4 separate regions of the Homo sapiens genome follow, and all the other regions are linked to region 3. The links come from fine-mapping of genetic effects on gene expression. A gene starts in region 3. Each other region holds a variant in brackets. All regions are shown on one strand. Distances are between the middles of the regions.

What was found. PIP is the estimated chance that this variant, and not a neighbour inherited with it, causes the effect.
Region 1: its variant is fine-mapped to the expression of CLEC5A in whole blood (TOPMed, PIP above 0.99).
Region 2: its variant is fine-mapped to the expression of CLEC5A in whole blood (INTERVAL, PIP 0.96).
Region 4: its variant is fine-mapped to the expression of CLEC5A in whole blood (TOPMed, PIP above 0.99).

Annotation. Positions count from the first base shown.
Region 1 is chr7:141,749,417-141,754,043 of GRCh38, forward strand. SSBP1 (single stranded DNA binding protein 1) reads left to right here. Exons shown (of 7, transcript NM_003143.3): 7 at 895-1,072. The coding sequence ends at 938. Among named protein-coding and RNA genes, the nearest start is that of TAS2R3, 12 kb to the right of the region's middle. The variant C/G (reference allele first, on the strand shown) is at 2,587.
Region 2 is chr7:142,063,682-142,067,681 of GRCh38, forward strand. MGAM (maltase-glucoamylase) reads left to right here. Exons shown (of 71, transcript NM_001365693.1): 37 at 703-841; 38 at 1,654-1,787; 39 at 1,907-1,941; 40 at 2,034-2,150; 41 at 2,892-3,040; 42 at 3,660-3,744. Among named protein-coding and RNA genes, the nearest start is that of MGAM2, 46 kb to the right of the region's middle. The variant T/C (reference allele first, on the strand shown) is at 1,929.
Region 3 is chr7:141,944,688-141,949,314 of GRCh38, forward strand. CLEC5A (C-type lectin domain containing 5A) reads right to left here and starts at 2,287. Exons shown (of 7, transcript NM_013252.3): 1 at 2,120-2,287; 2 at 1,527-1,625; 3 at 654-713. The coding sequence starts at 1,605. RefSeq lists an enhancer at 769-1,968.
Region 4 is chr7:141,814,805-141,819,431 of GRCh38, forward strand. No RefSeq gene overlaps it. Among named protein-coding and RNA genes, the nearest start is that of PRSS37, 24 kb to the right of the region's middle. The variant C/G (reference allele first, on the strand shown) is at 1,814.

The sequences.
Region 1 (4,627 bases), 200 kb before region 3:
TCTGATATTTTTGGATAAAAATGCTAACTCTGTGATGTTGATTCATAAAATGTTCCCAAGAATTGGTATATTAAAATTATTCTGGGCCAGGTGCGGTGCTCATGCCTGTAATCCCAGCACTTTGGGAGGCCAAGGCGGGCAGATCACTTGAGGTCAGGAGTTCAAGACCAGCCTGGCCAACATGGTGAAACCCTGTCTCTATTAAAAATACAAAAGTTAGCCAGGCATGGTGGTGCACACCTATAATCCCAGCTACTGGAGAGGCTGAGGCAGGAGAATCGCTTGAACCCAGGAGGCAGAGGTTGCAGTAAGCTGAGATTGCACCACTTCACTCCAGCCTGGGTGACAGAGACTCCATCTCCAAAGGAAAAACAAAAAGTTATTCTGTATTGTAATTTAAAAATAAAATTTCTTCTATTTGAATTTTTAAAGTTAAAAACGTAAGTAAATCCTGTCATTGCTAACAGGGCCACATATGGACTCTTACTCTTTCCTCTAGACCCCCAGAGTGTAGAATGTGATACACTTTTGTCCTTTTCTCTGAGGATGTGCTGCCTAGTGTCGTGGAATCTGCCTGACCATTGCAAGCATCCAATTTTGTGACCAGTTCTTTTGCAGGAAATTGTTTCTGAGAAGACTGGAAGACAAGAAATATCCCACCTCTTCTAACAAGATCTGAATTGTTCGAAAAGCAGCCAGTGCCTAACTTGTAGCTCCACTTATGCCAACTGTATATATACCTCTCGTGAGCATAGCAAGTGATTTAATATTTTGAAAAGATGGCTAAAATCCTTTTAATGAACAGCACTAAAGTTATATGTATTAGAGGAGAATTATTGAATGAGATGGAGAAAGAGTTCTGAAATTAATATTTACATTTTGGCTTTTTTACAGATAATATTATATTTCTGAGTGACCAGACGAAAGAGAAGGAGTAGAAAGGATGATTCTTCTTTGGCCATCATTTGGTACAGTCTCATTTCCAAGTCATGTATAATCTTTATGGCTTCCAAGGACAAGAATTAAAATACTCTTTTACGTAAAATGAGTAATAATCTTTTTTCTGACTGTCGTTCTCGCTCTCCTTTTTGTGGTATAATCTTGGTAGCTACTATCTGTTATGGCATTTACTAGTTGTTTATTCTTCTAAGGGTGGTTTCTATGTACAGGTATACAAAATAGTAAACTTTCAGGCTCATTTGTGTTATGGCAAAGGGATAAATATGCTTTGGGAAGGTCTCCTGGTTTTTGTATACACTTTTATTACAATATTGATTTGTCCAATCAGTGAATTTACTGAGCATCACTGTATGTGAGACATTTATCCCATATTTGTAAATATTGATTTTCTTAACGTTTTGCTCTGTAGACATGAAGGCAAGGACTGAATCTTCTGTTTGCCTGCACTTTAAACCATGCTTTACATAGAATAGCCACTCAGTAAGCATTGATAGATGAATCATCCCAATGGGATTCTAAGCTTCAGCTCAAATTGAAGGGAGTTGCTGAGCAGTGGTTAGTGTCTAACCTAAACATCTTTAAGACTAACCTACCTTCTTCATATCTTTTGTTTTTGGACAGTTTCATTAGTAGCATTGATGAAACATAGTTTACCAGCAATAAGGACCTGAATAATTAGAGATGAAATCGTTCATCTCCAGGTGATGCCACAGGAGCTGTAGTTCTGTTCTTTCTCTGCCCCTGTTATCTGTGGGGAAAAGAAAGAGAGATCAGACTGTTACAGTGTCTATGTAGAAAGAAGTAGACATGAGAGACTCCATTTTGTTCTGTACTAAGAAAAATTCTTTTGCCTTGAGATGCTGTTAATCTGTAACCCTACCCCCAACCCTGTGCTCGTAGAAACAAGTGCTGTGTGCTGTGTCGACTCAAGGTTTAATGGATTTAGGGCTATGTAGGATGTGCTTTGTTAAACAAATGCTTGAAGGCAGAATGCTTGTTAAAAGTCATCACCACTCCTTAATCTCAAGTACCAAGAGACACAAAACACTGCAGAAGGCCGCAGGGACCTCTCCCTAGGAAAGCCAGGTATTGTCCAAGGTTTCTCCCCATGTGATAGTCTGAAATATGGCCTCGTGGGAAGGGAAAGACCTGACCATCCCCCAGCCCGCCACCTGTAAAGGGTCTGTGCTGAGGAGGATTAGTAAAAGAAGAAGGCCTCTTTGCAGTTGAGATAAGAGGAAGGCATCTGTCTCCTGCTCGTCCCTGGGCAATGGAATGTCTCAGTGTAAAACCTGATTGTATATTCCATCTACTGAGATAGGAGAAAACCGCCTTAGGGCTGGAGGTGAGACATGCTGGCGGCAATACTGCTCTTTAAGGCATTGAGGTGTTTACATATGTGCACATCAAAAGCACAGCACCTTTTTCTTTACCTTGTTTATGATGCAGAGACATTTGTTCACATGTTTTGCTGCTGACCCTCTCTCCACTATTACCCTGTTGTCCTGCCACATCCCCCTCTCCGAGATGGTAGAGGTAATGATCAATAAATACTGAGGGAACTCGGAGACCAGTGCTGGCACGGGTCCTCCGTATGCTGAGCGCTGGTCCCCTGGGCCCACTTTT[C/G]TTTCTCTGTACTTTGTCTCTGTGTCTCTTTGTTTTCTCAAGTCTCTCGTTCCACCTGACGAGAAACAGCCACAGGTGTGGAGGGGCAGGCCACCCCTTCATCTGGCGCCCAACCTGGGGCTAAGGGATCTATTCTATTTATTTGCGCTGACTGAATTTTTTCTTCCACTAATTTAATTTCTTTTGTTGCCTCTGGGGTTAATATTCTTTTAAGTCTGGTTCTCCTCTTAAGATAGAGAGCAAATTTGACATGGCATAAGTAGGAATGCCTAAAGTTGGCCGAATCCAATTAATATCGCCTAGCAATTTTTGAAAATCATTTAATGTTTTTAATGTCTTTTTTTATTTCTATTTTTTGTGGCTTAATTTTTCTATTTTCTATCTGCATCCCTACATAATGAAAAGGAGTAGAGGTTTGAATCTTATCAGATACTATTGCCAGTCCTGCGTTGGCAACCTCTGCTTACAGAAATGTGTAAGTCAATTAATTTGTCTTGTTTCTGTAGCACATAAAATATCATCAGCATAATGAATGATATAACAGTCTGAAAACTTGTCTCTAACTGGTTGAAGAGCTCGACCTATGAAAGTCTGACAAATAGTTGGACTATTAAGCATTCCCTGAGGTAACACTTTCCACTGAAACCTGGTGGCTGGTTATTATTTATGGCTGGTATAGTAAAGGCAAATTTTTCACAATCCTGCTCCGCCAGAGGAATGGTAAAAACGTAGTCCTTCAGATCAATTATAATTAAAGGCCCGGCGTTTGGGATCATGGCCGGAGAGGGCAACCCGGTTTGGATAGGTCGCATGGGTTGAATTACGGCATTTATGGCCCTTAAGTCCGTTAACATACGCCATCTGCTGGATCTTTTCTGAATTACAAACACAGGAGAATTCCAAGGCGAGAATGAAGGCTCAATATGTCCCTTTTCTAATTGTTCATTTGCTAATAAATGTAAAGCCTCCAGTTTTTATTTTGGTAGCGGCCACTGATTTACCAATACGGGTTTTTCTGTTTTCCAACTTAATGGAATGGTAAGTTTAGGAGGCTCTGCAGTGGCCACCCCTAAAAAGGATACCCTATTCCTTTTCTTTCTTGATTTCTTTCAGTCTCAATTGGGACTTTAATGCCATTTTCATTTTTTCCTAGTCCTTTTCCTGGTATATATCCCATCTTAGTCATGATTTTTTGACTCGTGGGGCTGTATAATGGAGCGGGCATAGTGATTTCCGCACCCCATTGTTGTAATAAATCTCGACCCCGCATATTAACAGGAATTGAAGTAATCATTGGCTGAACAGTACTTTCTTGATTATCTGGCCCTAAACAGTGTAAAATCATAGTACTTTGATGCACTTCTGAGGCTGTTCCTATGCCGAGAAGTCCTGTAACAGCCTTTTGTTTAGGCCAATTTTTTGGCCACTGATTTAAAGCAATGATAGAGACATCTGCTCTAGTGTCTACTAACCCTTCAAACTGTTTTCCTTGAATAATGGCCTTACACACAGGTCTGCTGTCTGAGACCTGACTTGCCCAATATGCGGCCTTTCCTGTCGGATCAGTGCTTCCAAACCCTCCTGTTTTTATCTGTTTCCAACCATAATATAAGGCAGGAGTAATAATTGAGCAATCCTGTCTCCTGGACTGGCACTCCAAGGAATTGAAGAGCTAATAACCAATTGAATTTCGCCTTTATAGTCTGAATCAACCATACCACTATGAATTTGAACTCCCTTTAGATTTAGACTTGAGCTTCCTAAGATTAGTCCTACAGTCCCTTCAGGCAGTGGGCCATATATCCCTGTGGGGTTTTTTTGTGGGGGTTCCCCTGGAAGCAGAGAGACTGCTTGTATAGTACATAAATCTACTGCTGCACTGCCACTTGTGGTGGGGGACAATTGTTGTATTGTGGTAACTGGCTCATTCCCTGAGGCACTTGGGACAGTGGGGGTTGTTGTCCCTGAAATCCCTGAGGAGCAAAGGGCTGAATTGGGAATGCCCCAGTTTTTTGTGGGGCCTGAGGCGGGCCCCTCTTCT
Region 2 (4,000 bases), 120 kb after region 3:
CATCCTCATGGCTGCTGTGGTTTACTGGGGACCAGAGACAAAAGCTCTGCACGTGCTTTACCCAGCCGGGCATGGGCAAGTGACTAGACTCATTGAGCAAATTTCTTGAAATTTGTCCAGAAAGCACTTAGCAGAGCTCATGGCACAAAGGGTTCTCACAGCTGAGTTTCTTAGTTTTTAGGCTTGTGTGAATTCCATCACAGGAATTTCTTGTGTCATCAGTGAGTGGAAATTACTGGCTTCCCCTTATCATGGAGCTGATGGACTTTGGAGTTACACTTGGGTTCATATCTTGGCTCCAGAAATTGTTCTCTCTAGGAGTTTTGTGACTTTTCACAGATTATGTGATATTTCCAAATCTCAGTTTGCTAAATTGTAAAAGACGGATAATGAGATCTTCTTCATAGAATTATGGAAATAATTGGAAGTCAAAAGCCTAAATCAGAGCCCGTCATGTAGTGTTTGACAGCTGTACGTTCTTCCTGACACCTCTGCTTCCTTCAGTGAACTTGATGTTGGAAACACAGCAGGCGCCAATGCAGCTCAGAGCTGGGGGCGCTGTGCTCATGTCTCTGGGGAGATGGAGAGCGACACAGGCAGGACTGAAGTTAGTCTTAAGATCCAGGGCCCAGTCCCTTGAAGAGAAGTCAGGGAGAAACAGAATCAGGGCTGGGTTTCACCTCGCCAGTTCTTCCTCCTCAGATTTGGAGTCCAGGGACAGGGGCCTGAGCAGCAAGACCCTTTGTATGGAGAGTCAGCAGATCCTCCCAGACGGCTCCCTGGTGCAGCACTACAACGTGCACAACCTGTATGGGTGGTCCCAGACCAGACCCACATACGAGTGAGTCTCCGTCTCCCTTCTCCAGCTGTCACAACCTATAGCGATTGCCAGTGACTGACATAGCTACCCTAGTTTTCCTTTCATTCCATTTCTAAGGATTAAGAAGATTCTCATAACTCTGTAATGATTCTTATTTATTAAACAAATGCTCATTGACATGGAGCCAGGCCCTGTGATTAAAAGTAGGAGGACAGATTTAAATAAGGCATGGTCCCACCAGTGAAAAACTTAATGATCCTAGTGGGAAAGACTCACATGGAGACACCATAATGGTCACACAGGGCAGCCAGTGGAACAATAGCTTTAGTTACAGGAGGTGAAGGGAACACAGAGGACTGGGCATCTCTCCCGTTCATTTCAAAGTGAATCATCTTTGGAGATGTTTGTATTTTTGGCCATTCTTGGTGGAGGGTAACTGGTATTGTACTGAATTAGCACAGTCCTGCTTTGCAAGCTCAATGAATAGTATGAATTCTTCTAAGAGGATCTTATAACCTTCACTGTGTTCCTTCTCAAATATAGAAAACTAAGTATTGAGGAAACCATTAGCAAGACATAGTAATTCCTTAGTATTTTGGGAGTACTCCAGTGAGGCTGCTACAGTGAAGTTCTTTGTAAAGCACTGTGAGAACACGTGACTCATTATCTCCATCATCTGGGATCAGTGGAACTCCTATTACAGCTCAGAGTCCCATGTTCCCTCCAGTCACGCAGCAAACATTGACTAGGCTCAAGGGCTCTGGGAGCAGAAGCTCTATGGCCTTTACTCCCTGGCTGTTGCCTCAGTTCACCTCCTGTTCCCTTCCAAGCAGAGCCGTGCAGGAGGTGACGGGACAGCGAGGGGTCGTCATCACCCGCTCCACATTTCCCTCTTCTGGCCGCTGGGCAGGACATTGGCTGGGAGACAACACGGCCGCATGGGATCAGCTGAAGAAGTCTATCATTGGTGCGTGGGTCCTTCCCCAGGGCCTTTGCCGACAGGGCAGGGAGTTGGGATCCTTAGGGAAGAGGTGAGGAGGCAGATCATGAGAGCCTGGTGTGACACAGCTGTGCTTCTCGTTGCAGGCATGATGGAGTTCAGCCTCTT[T/C]GGCATATCCTATGTGAGTGTCCTTGGGATCCTCCTAAGCACCAAGAAGGTGGGGACATCTTTCAGAAATCATCAGCAGGCTCCTTTTATTTCCTCTTGTTTCAGACGGGAGCAGATATCTGTGGGTTCTTTCAAGACGCTGAGTACGAGATGTGTGTTCGCTGGATGCAGCTGGGGGCCTTTTACCCCTTCTCAAGAAACCACAATACCATTGGGACCAGGGTAGGACAGTGGCTTCTACCTCCACTGTTTTATGTCACTTGAAAGACAGTCTCCATTTCTGTGCTAAAAGTAATGCAGTCTCTATTTCCTGGGATATCTTTAAAAAAAGGTGTTTTTTTTTGTTTTGTTTTGTTTTGTTTTTTTTTTTGAAACAGGGATTTACTCTGTTGGCCAGGCTGAATCGTGCAGTGTCCCAATCATGGCTGACTGCAGCCTCCACCTCTGGGGCTAAAGCGATTGTCCCACGTCAGCCTTCTGAATAGCTGGGATAAAGGCACATCCCAGCGTGGCTACCTAATTTTTGATTTTTTGTAGAAATGGGATCTTGCCATATTTCACAGGATGGTCTCGAACTCCTGGGCTCAAGCGATCCACTCGACAGCCTCCAAAAGTGCTGGGATTACAGGCGTGAGCCACTGCACCCTTAAAAATTGTGAAGACCTGGTGTCTCAATGAACCATATTCCTCATTGTGCTTTAGATTATTATTTTTTTCCTGTATTTCAGGCAGAATTTTACCAAATGTTCCAAAAAGAATGTCTTACAGTGAAATTTTATCAGCTGTCTTAGGAGAGCTTTGGTGACTCTTTCCGGTCTATTAAGAATATTCTCTGGGCCTCATGTATAGTTTTCTTTTGTTTAGCTGTGAGTGATCTTCAATTGGAGTATGCTTTTAGTGACCTTCTTAAATCCCCTAGAAATTCCAGGGCGAGCTCCCAACACTGTTCTCTTTCTCCTTTAGAGACAAGACCCTGTGTCCTGGGATGCTGCTTTTGTGAATATTTCCAGAAATGTCCTGCAGACCAGATACACCCTGTTGCCATATCTGTATACCTTGATGCAAAAGGCCCACACGGAGGGCGTCACTGTTGTGCGGCCTCTGCTCCATGAGTGAGTGTCCAGCAGGGATCCCGATGACTAATGGATGACTTATTGCATTCTATGTGGTAGCAGTTGATATACACAACGCTTCCAAATTAAAGACATGATGGCCTTTTGACATGAGCTCTTCAGACACAAAGTATACCTGATTACTGTCTTTAGCACAGTGTTATACATACCGTAGGTCATAAAAAAAGGGTATTTATTGAATGACGAAAATTGAAATGATGCAGTACAGCATAGAATAGTTTCATTCTAATTTGGTTGTGCAAAGGCCTATCTTATGTAGCAGTTTTGTTATATGGACCCAGGTCACAAAAGAAGGATTTCAGCAAGAGAATTGAGGGACGAGGGCCATCCTCACATTTAAAATGTGCCATGGTTAAGAAATGAGGTAATATTTTACAGGAGAGAACACATCTACATCCCAGCATTTCTGAAGTTTGAGGCACATCCCATGGGGAAAGCAGAGGCTGGGTGCTCCTGATGAAGCTAGGCCTAGGAACAAAGCAAGGATGGCTCAGGGGCAGCTGTATTTCCGACTTGGATCTGAACTTGAGGAGCTTCTTCAGAGTGTCGGGCTGGGGCTCTGTTGGGCTCTGTTGGGCACCTTCATTTCCCTTTCCAGGTTTGTGTCAGACCAGGTGACATGGGACATAGACAGTCAGTTCCTGCTGGGCCCAGCCTTCCTGGTCAGCCCTGTCCTGGAGCGCGTGAGTATGGAGGCCTCCGATGAGGGGAGGATCCCAGCTGTGAGGCTTGGGGAAAAGGACGAGGAGAAGAGGCCTGAGCTGGTGGGGGTCCTGAGACATGGTTTCTTATTCTACCTGTGTCTCTTCCTCTCTTTCTGAGCTGAAGTCCATCACTTAGGTGTTCTTGGCACTCAGCTCCTTCATCTTTAAAATGAGCCTAACAATTCTGGTTCGTAGGATGATCAAGAAGAAAACACCTCATGGAATAGTCAATGAC
Region 3 (4,627 bases):
TTGTGGTTGAAGACCACTTTACTCTGACATCAAATTAGTTACTTACATTTATCTTAATGAAACAAATTGGCATTCACTTTTTATTTCAGTACCCCGTTTATAGACTCTAAGATGTAATAGCCTGGTTTTCATCAGAAACTACTTTGAGATTATAACTTAAGGACTCAATACATATTTTATGAGTATTTTCTCCATACAGCTCACTGTATTGGGTTGCCTCTGTTGATACTAAGATAAATGAGAAACGGTCTTTCTCCTAACGATGTCAGTAGTAATAGGTGTCTTAAGAGGAAGTGAGAGGATGTTGTTGGGAAAGGCTTCAGAAGGAAGCTGGTTTAATCGGGAGAGGAGAACCATGCCCCACTCATCTCTCTATCTCCCATAGCTACTGGCTATTAAGCACTTTCACATTCTATTACAATGATTAGATATAAATCATCCCCATATCCAGGAGAAAAACTAAGGATCAGAAATTTCCCTCAGTCTGCTCTTGGTTTTCTCATATGTAAAAGAAAGGGAATTAATTAGAAGATCTTTATGGACCCTTTGTACAAAAGAATTTCTTGGGAAAGGAGGCTGTGTGGAAGGTCTCTAGGAATTCAGCATAGAAGTAGCAGGAGGATGGGGAGAAGATTTACCACCATGCAGATTACCTGTTCCATAGCTCCTGGTGGTGGTGAAACCATCGTTACTTTTGTTAAAAATCTGTGGGACTGAAAAGAAAATCAGCTGTTGGCTCAGCCCCAAATGTGACTGCATGATGAATATGACAAACAAGTATCAGCACAGGGGCTGCTAGGGTACTGTGACTATTAGTGGGAAATACTGAACTCTCTGACTCAGTGAAGATGCATAAATGTGGTTTTGTGAATACGTTCCCTTATTCATATTTCTGTCCTGCTGTCTGACATGATAGGAATTGCACCTTCAGATTGCATCATGAGGAAGACACCTCTTAGCTAACTACTGCCTCCCACTCACGTTTCCTTCCTCATTTATTTTCCCTACTGGCTTCTGGGGCTAGAGAAGATTCTAGTTTCTGATTGCAGTAAAATCCTTTCATAGGAGGCTTCTTTAACTAGGCATTTGGATGAATTAATTTATATGTATACAAAGAGAAATTTCTTTCTCAGTTAAATCCTGTTACATTATACTTCAGCTCTTACCATGGCCTTGTCATTGGGTTGAACTGGAGCTGTATTTTAGATTTTGCCAACAATAACAAGCGCTGCCAAGTACTTCAGCTGAGATCACCCAAATAATACTCTACTAGCAAAAGCTTTGCGTGGCGTTCTAACCATCAGAAACTGGTAAGTTCTATATCTCCAAGGTAGACCAAGGAGCCTGGGCCACTGTGTGTGCTGGGGAGTGAGAAAGGCATTGCCAATTGACCTCAGGTTGGGTCAGTTAGTCTCAGGTGGAAAGACTTGGATATGTAACCTTTACACACAACCATGCATTCTGAGAGAAGAGTCAATGAGCAAGACAACATGAAGTCTGGGGCAAGAGGTTGCTCAAATACTCACAATAAAGTAGAAATAAGGTCATTCCAACAACTTTAAGCACTACCACAATAAGCCCAGAGATGATCATGTGCCAGTTCATGATGAAGGAGCTGCAGGGGCCTGTGAAGATTAGAGCACAGCAGCATCAGAATTCGGGTACAAGGCTGCTTTTCACTAGGACATATCCCAGCCTCTCGCTCAGAGTACCCAAAGCAAGGCAGGCTTGGAAGACAGGCATGACATTGACAGGTACCAGGAGGTGACCCAGCGTGGGCCGCGAACACAGAAAGAATCATGTATTGATTGGAGCCTTGGAACTTGGCATACTGCCTCTCCTTCACTCATTCCCTACTCCAGGCCTCAGCCTTGCCCTATTTGTGGCCTCCTAAATTCTGTCTAATAATTAAACCCTCTCCTGTATTTTGAGAACCCTTATCCTTGAAATGACCCTTGTTCCCAAGGACCTTAGTCTGTAGCCTTCACCATACTGACTTAAGTTGTCAGAAGCCTCAGTCTTCCAAATACCAGGGGTAGGTGACAGACAGGACAGGCATCCCTGAAGGTCTTGGCATTGGTCAACAGTCCATGCAGCCAAGACAGACAGACAGACTCACCTCTTTCTCCCTGGAAGGCTAGGCTTGCTTGCAGATGGGGGTCTTCCTGGTGGCCTAATGCTTGGTGTGGCAGGCAGGGGCCCCGTCTCCTGAGAATATGCTCCTTTTGCCCAAGCAACGTTCTTCCTTCTTCACAGTCTCTGCCTTGGTAGCATCCCCAAGAAATACCTCTTCCTGTTCAGTGGGGTTCTTGGCAAAGGGAGCAGGCGGGGCAAAGAAGGGAAGAGACTCTCTAGCCCTAGTGGTGGCAAGAGCAGACTTCCTGCCAGGAGAGTTCTAATGCAGAGGAACATTTTAAGGACAATTTGGAAAACAAAATACCTCAACACAGATTCACCCTTCCTCTGTGTCTAAATCTCCTTGAAATACAGTGGGAAGAGAAATGTAGTAAAATTTTAACAAACATTGAATCTGGATAAAAGGTAGCTGGAAGTTATTTGTACTTTCCTTACAACATTTCTGCAAGTCTGAAATTATGTCAAGTTAAAAATGTTAAGAAATCCAGTTGAAGACACTAATATGAATGAGCAGGTTCTTGCTGTTCCATTTGCTCCATTTGCTGGAGCTCTGCTCATTCCCCTTTATCATGGACTCCTCTCTGGCACCACCTGCTCACCTTCCAGACCTCATGGTGGCTCTTCAGTGTTTCTTGAACATGGCACTCTGCTGGATACAGCAGTGGGCTGGGGTGAACAATACTCAAGTCCTATTGTCAAGGAGTTTTTAATTTCGTGTTAAATTTGAAAATTTGCTTTTATTTTCCCTACTATGAAAACTACTGTGCTCATGACAAAAAAATGGCTGGAAAATATTAACAAGGAAAATTGAGAAAACAAAACCATTTATAACCTTGTACATTTAGTTATAGTCATTGCTAGCACCTCAGGGTGTATCCTTTCGAGATGAGTAGGTAGATAGAAAGATAGATGGATAGATAGATAGATAGACAGAAAAACACTGGTTCACAAAGAACAATGGGAACATATTGTACATATTGTTTTGCAATCTATCTGCTCAAGATTAAGCTAACACTATGTTATATATATCTTTTCATGTCAAAATATAGATTTTGATAATGTATTATTTAATATGTGCATAGCATTCAGGTGTAAAACTATATGATTTATTTATTCAGGTGTAAAAGTATATTATTTCTTTAACAATTGCATAACCACAAATCTTCTAGTAAAGTGTGGTGGACAAGAACAAAGTTTTAAAAATCAGTCCTGCTTTTGATTCCTGGAGCTGACCTTCACTAGCTGAACATCCTTGATTAAGTTACTGAGTCTCTTTACCTTCCATTTCTTTATCTATAAATAGGAGTAATTATAGTAAATACCACATAGGATTGTTCCGAGAAATGAGCAAGATAATGCTTGTAATTTCAATAGCGTGATACTCAGCATCTTAAACATAAATCCTTAGTATTCTAACTATTTTCTAAAACTCTTCTAACTATCTTCCCAATGCACAGTGAACAGCTAAGTGCATGCATCCTTTTACATGTCCTTAATAACTTTCTTGGGCTAAGTTATCAGAAATATAAATGCTGGATCAAAAGACATGTACATTTGGAGGGCTTTGGAACATTAAAGTTGTGTTTTGTTCTACTTGGATAGTCCTCTGTGTTTTTGAAAAATCTCATTGAACCTGATTTATCTGGTCACAAGGTAATTACTTCTAGACCCTAGATTGCTGTCCAGAAGGATCCATATATTTATTGGACAATAAATATGGCCAATTATGCCAGCTATGTTAGGAAGTATGGGAATCAGGAGACTTGGTTATTATTATTTAGAAAGTTTTTAACAGAGACTTTCTGAATAACTTAATAAAATCTATACACTTGGATAGCAAGTGAATCTTTTATAACAAAGAGGTATAAGAGATCTTTCAAATATCATCAAAAGAGAAGAAAATGTCATAGTATAAAAGGATGTCCACAGAAGTTTTGGGGGTAGTACTCTGACTGATGCATTGTGGGACACCTCTGCTCTGCTAGAAAATCTAAAGAAAAATCTAAATTCTTGTTCAAGGCTTCGCACTGCAATGCTTCTCTTAAACTCGACATTATCAGAAACCTTGCTAAAAAAAAGCCAATATCTGCAATGGCAAATGCAACTGAGGGGTTACTAGAGATGAAGTCAATAGCATTGGGGGCCCATGCCCATTGCTTTGGGAAAATAATAAGAAAGGGGCTTCTAGTCACACAATTGTAAGGAAATACCCACACATTGTTTTTTGGGGAAAAAACCATGAGATCACTAATTTTTAATCAGTTATTGCAGACTGGGATAACAAATTCTCTGCTTAGTGAGTCAAATTAGATTTTTTTCACTAGGCTGAGTCCTAAAAATAAAGAAAAAAGTTTTATTGAAGAGTAAAACTGAAATTTAACTTTGGCAATCTTCATGTGACATCAAGTTGGAAATGCTAAGTCTTTAGGGACTGTATTATGCAATATTATAATTGCCTGAGCAGACAACGGAGTCACCTCTACATTGTAAT
Region 4 (4,627 bases), 130 kb before region 3:
GCTACCTCCTGTGCAAGGTGTTCTGGTTTTCATCCTAAGTGTGATCTGATAATGAGTTTTTGAGTTTTGGTTGTCTGACCTGTTATGGTGTTTGCCATCTAAAAATTTGGGTAGTAGTTGATTTATATTTTGAGGAAACCAACTATTTATTAGCAGAGACTGATAGTAATAGTCACTAAGTGTTACTCAAAGGAAAGTGTTTATAAACACAATTAGTTTGTGTGATTTAGCCATATCATGAGTGAATTGTAGCTAGATGTTGATTCATTCCAAGAAGTGATTAGGGATGCACAGAGTAGTATTAAGGAATGTTATCAATTAAAAGTAACAAATGTGTGTTAGCAATTTAGAAGCTTGAACTGGGAGAAAATAAAGAAAATAGCTAGGAAAATAAAAACAGGAGCGTGCAGGTTAAAAAATGGGACATGGGATGTGAGTTTATTTATGGTTTCAGTCATCTGGACCTTGTTCTGTGAGGCTTAGGAAGAACCTGTCTAGAGCAAGAAGTCATCTGTTTGTCTGAAGATCTGTGAAAGATGTCATGTACTTCTGGAAGATGCCTGGATATGCTTAGCTTGAGATCACCCAAATGTTCAGATTTCCAAGTAGAACAGGATATTTGAAATTCTGAAACAAGACCAAGTTGTTACTTGAAGTTTGACCAATGTGTGCTTTCAGTGGTATTCAGTAATGTTCTTTCCAATGAGCTTCAAAAACAGTCTTTCTTTGAAATCTTTAGTATCTCAGCAATGGATGAGAAAAGTTATGTTGTGGAAAAATAGCTTGAACCTGTTGGTGATATGACTAAATATACCAATTTAGTCTCTTATGAGTAGTTTGGCTAATTTCAATTTTGTCATCCTTTTATCCTTTCTACTTTCCTAGAATATTGAGTGTAATAAGGGCAAGGAAGTTTTTTTTTTTTTGTAAGTGCCAAGAACTTACAAAATTCTTGGGGGGCAGTTCCCATTAAATGTGTTTCCCTGTCACTAGACAGATTACTGTGAATACCCATGTAGGAAACACAAAATCTAAAATCTCTTTGTATTGCAAGAACAATTACTTTTCTAAACACAATCTCTGCAGCGACCTGCCTGGGAAGCCAAACCATTCTAAAACGCTGAAAACATTTTAGAATGGTTGGAATATGGTCAATAACTGCCAGCTTCCCTATTTTTTGTCCCTGTTTCCAATTTGGGATCACCCAGAGAAATCCAGATATACTTCCCAAACCAAACACATAAGATGCCTCGTTTCTAGCTGGCCCAGCTTCTCCATGCCAACAACCTCTAATCAGAGCATACTTGAAGCCTTTCCTGTTTTTTATTGCAAAGCTTTACCCTTTCCTGCCTGCCTTTGAATCTCTGCCGAATGCTAGTGATGGTGGCTGATTGCCTTGCTGCAGCAAGCTCTGAGTAAATTGACTATATTTTTTTCTCATTTGGGTGTTCTTTGTTTATTTATACAGTAGATATAGTTACATCAGAGTCTGTAAGGAATTCCATGATTTTCCTTTAACAATTAGGCTGAATAGTCCTTGAGAGGATTATGGAAGACAAGAAACTCTGTGATACCAATAGTTCCCTTGGGCACCATATTTGGTCATCTTTAAAGAAAACTTTCTTTTTATTTTTGAATAAGGTGGATCACTGGCTTTTGCTATGGACCTTTTCTTGGCAATATCTGCAGGTATCATGATCTTTCATTCCGTATGCCTGGAAGATGCAGATTGATTGGTAATTTCAAATGATGTTAGTAAATCCTCTTTTTTTGGTCTGTTTTCTAGGTCTCATTTAAAGTATTCAGCAATACT[C/G]CATGGTTCTTTTATGCCGAAGTCTTTTGTTCTAATTTACTTTTTCTATTAGATCTACTATATCAGATTTTAGTCCATTGATGAAGACAGGACAAAGTTCCCTTGATCTCATTTTTTACATTAACTCCAGAATAGTGTTGGAAGACCTGTATAAGTCGATTTCTGTAGTCATCAATAGACTCCTTATTTTTCTTGTTTATAGGACGGAATTTTTGTTCAATCTTTGGCACGGGGTAAGTTTTAGTCTTTAAAAGTTATTTACTAACTTGCTTTGCTATATTCAGCCCTTTCCTGTTATTGAGAACTAGGGTTTTTTTAGATTGCCTTCAGCTTCTAGCCAGCCTGCACTATTTATCCATTTTAAAAGACAATGGATTGGCTTATTAAGATGAATCAATTGAAAAGTATCAGTTAGTACATGTCTAATAGAATTCTGAATGCACTAAGTTTAAATTCTACTTGCACACGGCAATTTTCGTGCTTATTAATCTCCTCCTGAGGGGTTCTCTGAGGAAAAGGAAGTCAAGAAGCAGATTGGGAGGGCTAAAAGAGTGGTAGGAAGACAGGGAGGATTAAGTAGGATAAAAGGAAACCGATGTCCTATGGAGAACTGTAGACCCAAGATTGAAATAGATATATATTTATCCTTTGCTAGAGAATCCATTAAGCACACCAATCACATTTCTTTCAGAGATTTCTGCATACTAGCTTGACAAATGCCAACCATTGGATGTTCAAAATCTTACTACTTTTTCAGTATATCTCTAAGATTGTGGTTAACAGCTTCAAATATGGATCCCAATAATCTACTATATCTGGTAGTCATAGTCACATCTATTGTGGAATCTTTTCCCCTTTAGTATTGGCTAGACCTAGTGACTTGTTTCTATTGGATTGACTATAGCAAAAGTGATGGGCTGCTACTCTGAGTTAAGTTACAAAAGACCGTAACTTGCACCTTTTCTCTTGCCTTCTCTCTTGCTTGTTTTGATAAAGCAAACTGCCATGTTGTGAGCTGCCCTTTGTGGAGGCCCACATGGCAAGGAACTGAGAGTGACCTCCAGTCAACAGCCAGTGAGGAACTGAGGCCCTCTGTTCAACAGTACAGGAGAAACTGAATCATGCCAGCAACCATGTGAAGGGGCTTGGAAATAGATACACACTAGTAAAACCTTAAGGCACTGGTCAACACCTTGACTGCAGCTGTTTGAGGGAATCAATCGCCAAAAGACCGAATAAGCCATGCCTGGATTTCTGACCAACAGAAACTGTGAGATGATAAGTGTTTGTTGCTTTAAGCCTCTGAGTTTTGGGGTAACTTGTTGCATAGTAGTAGATTACTAATAGACATACAATTTTGTTTTTTATTTTTTATATTATTTTGTTTTTTATATTTTTTTTTTTTTGAGACGGTGTGCAGTGGCACCATCTGGGCTCACTGCAAGCTCTGCCTCCCGGGTTCACGCCATGTTTTTTTAATTTTTGTGGGTAGATAGTAGGCGTATATATTTATAGGTTACATGAAATATTTTAATACAGGCATGAAATGTGTAATAACCACATCAGGATAAAGAGGATATTCATCACCTCAAGTATTTGTCCTTTGTGTTTCACACAATACAATTATACTCTTTTAGTTATTTTTTAATTTTTTATTTTTTGAGACGGAGTCTCACTCTGTCACCCAGGCTGGAGTGCAGTGGTGTGATCTCGGGTCACTGCAACCTCTGCCTCACATTTTTTAAATCTATTCATCTATTGATGGGCTCTCAGATTGCTTCCAAATCTTGGGTATTGTGAATAGTGCTGCAACCAACACTGGAGTGCAGGCATCTCTTTAATATACAGATTTCCTTTCTTTTGAGTATATACCTAGGAATGGTGGCTCTATTGGTAGTTTTCGGAGGAAGCTTCAGACTGTTCTCCATAGTGGTTGCACTAATTTACATGCCCACCAACAGTCTATGAGGGTTCTCTTTTCTCCATATTCTTGCCAGCATTTGCTATTGCCTGTCTTTTGGGTATCAGCCATTTTAACTGAAACGAGATAATATCTCATTGTAGTTTTGATTTGCATTTCTCTGATGACCAGTGATGTTGAGCACCTTTTCATATGCATTTGCATTTGTATCTTCTTTTGAGAAATGTCTATTCAAATTTTTTGCCCATTTCTTAATGGGATGATGAGATTTTTTTTTCTCTAGATTTGTTCAAGCTCCTTATATGTTCTGGTTATTAATTCCTTGTCAGATGGATAATTTGCAAATATTTTCTCCCATTCTGTGTGTTGTCTCTTCACTTTGTTAATTTTTTTTTTCTGTGCAGAAGCTTTTTGACTTGATGTGATCCCATTTGTCTATTTTTGCTTTTGTTGCCTGTGCTTATGGGGTATTACTCAAGAAATTTTTGCCCAGGCCAATATTCTGGAGAGTTTACCCAATGTTTTCTTGTAGTAGTTTCATAATTTGAGGTCTTAGATTTAAGTGTTTATTCCATTTTTATTTGATTTTTGTATATGGTGAGAAATAGGGGTCTAGTTTTATTTTTCTGCATATAGATATCCAGTTTTCTTGCACCATATTTTGAAGAGACTGTCTTTTCTCCAGTGTATATTCTTGACACCTGTGTTGCAAATGAGTTCACTGTAGGTGTGTGCATTTGTTTCTGGGTTCTATATTCAGTTCCATTGGTCTATGTATCTGTTTTGATGCCAGTACCATGCTGTTTTGGTTACTATAGCTCTGTAGCATAATTGAAGTCAGGTAATATGATTCCTCCATGTTTTTTCTTTTTGCTTAGGATAACTTTGTCTAT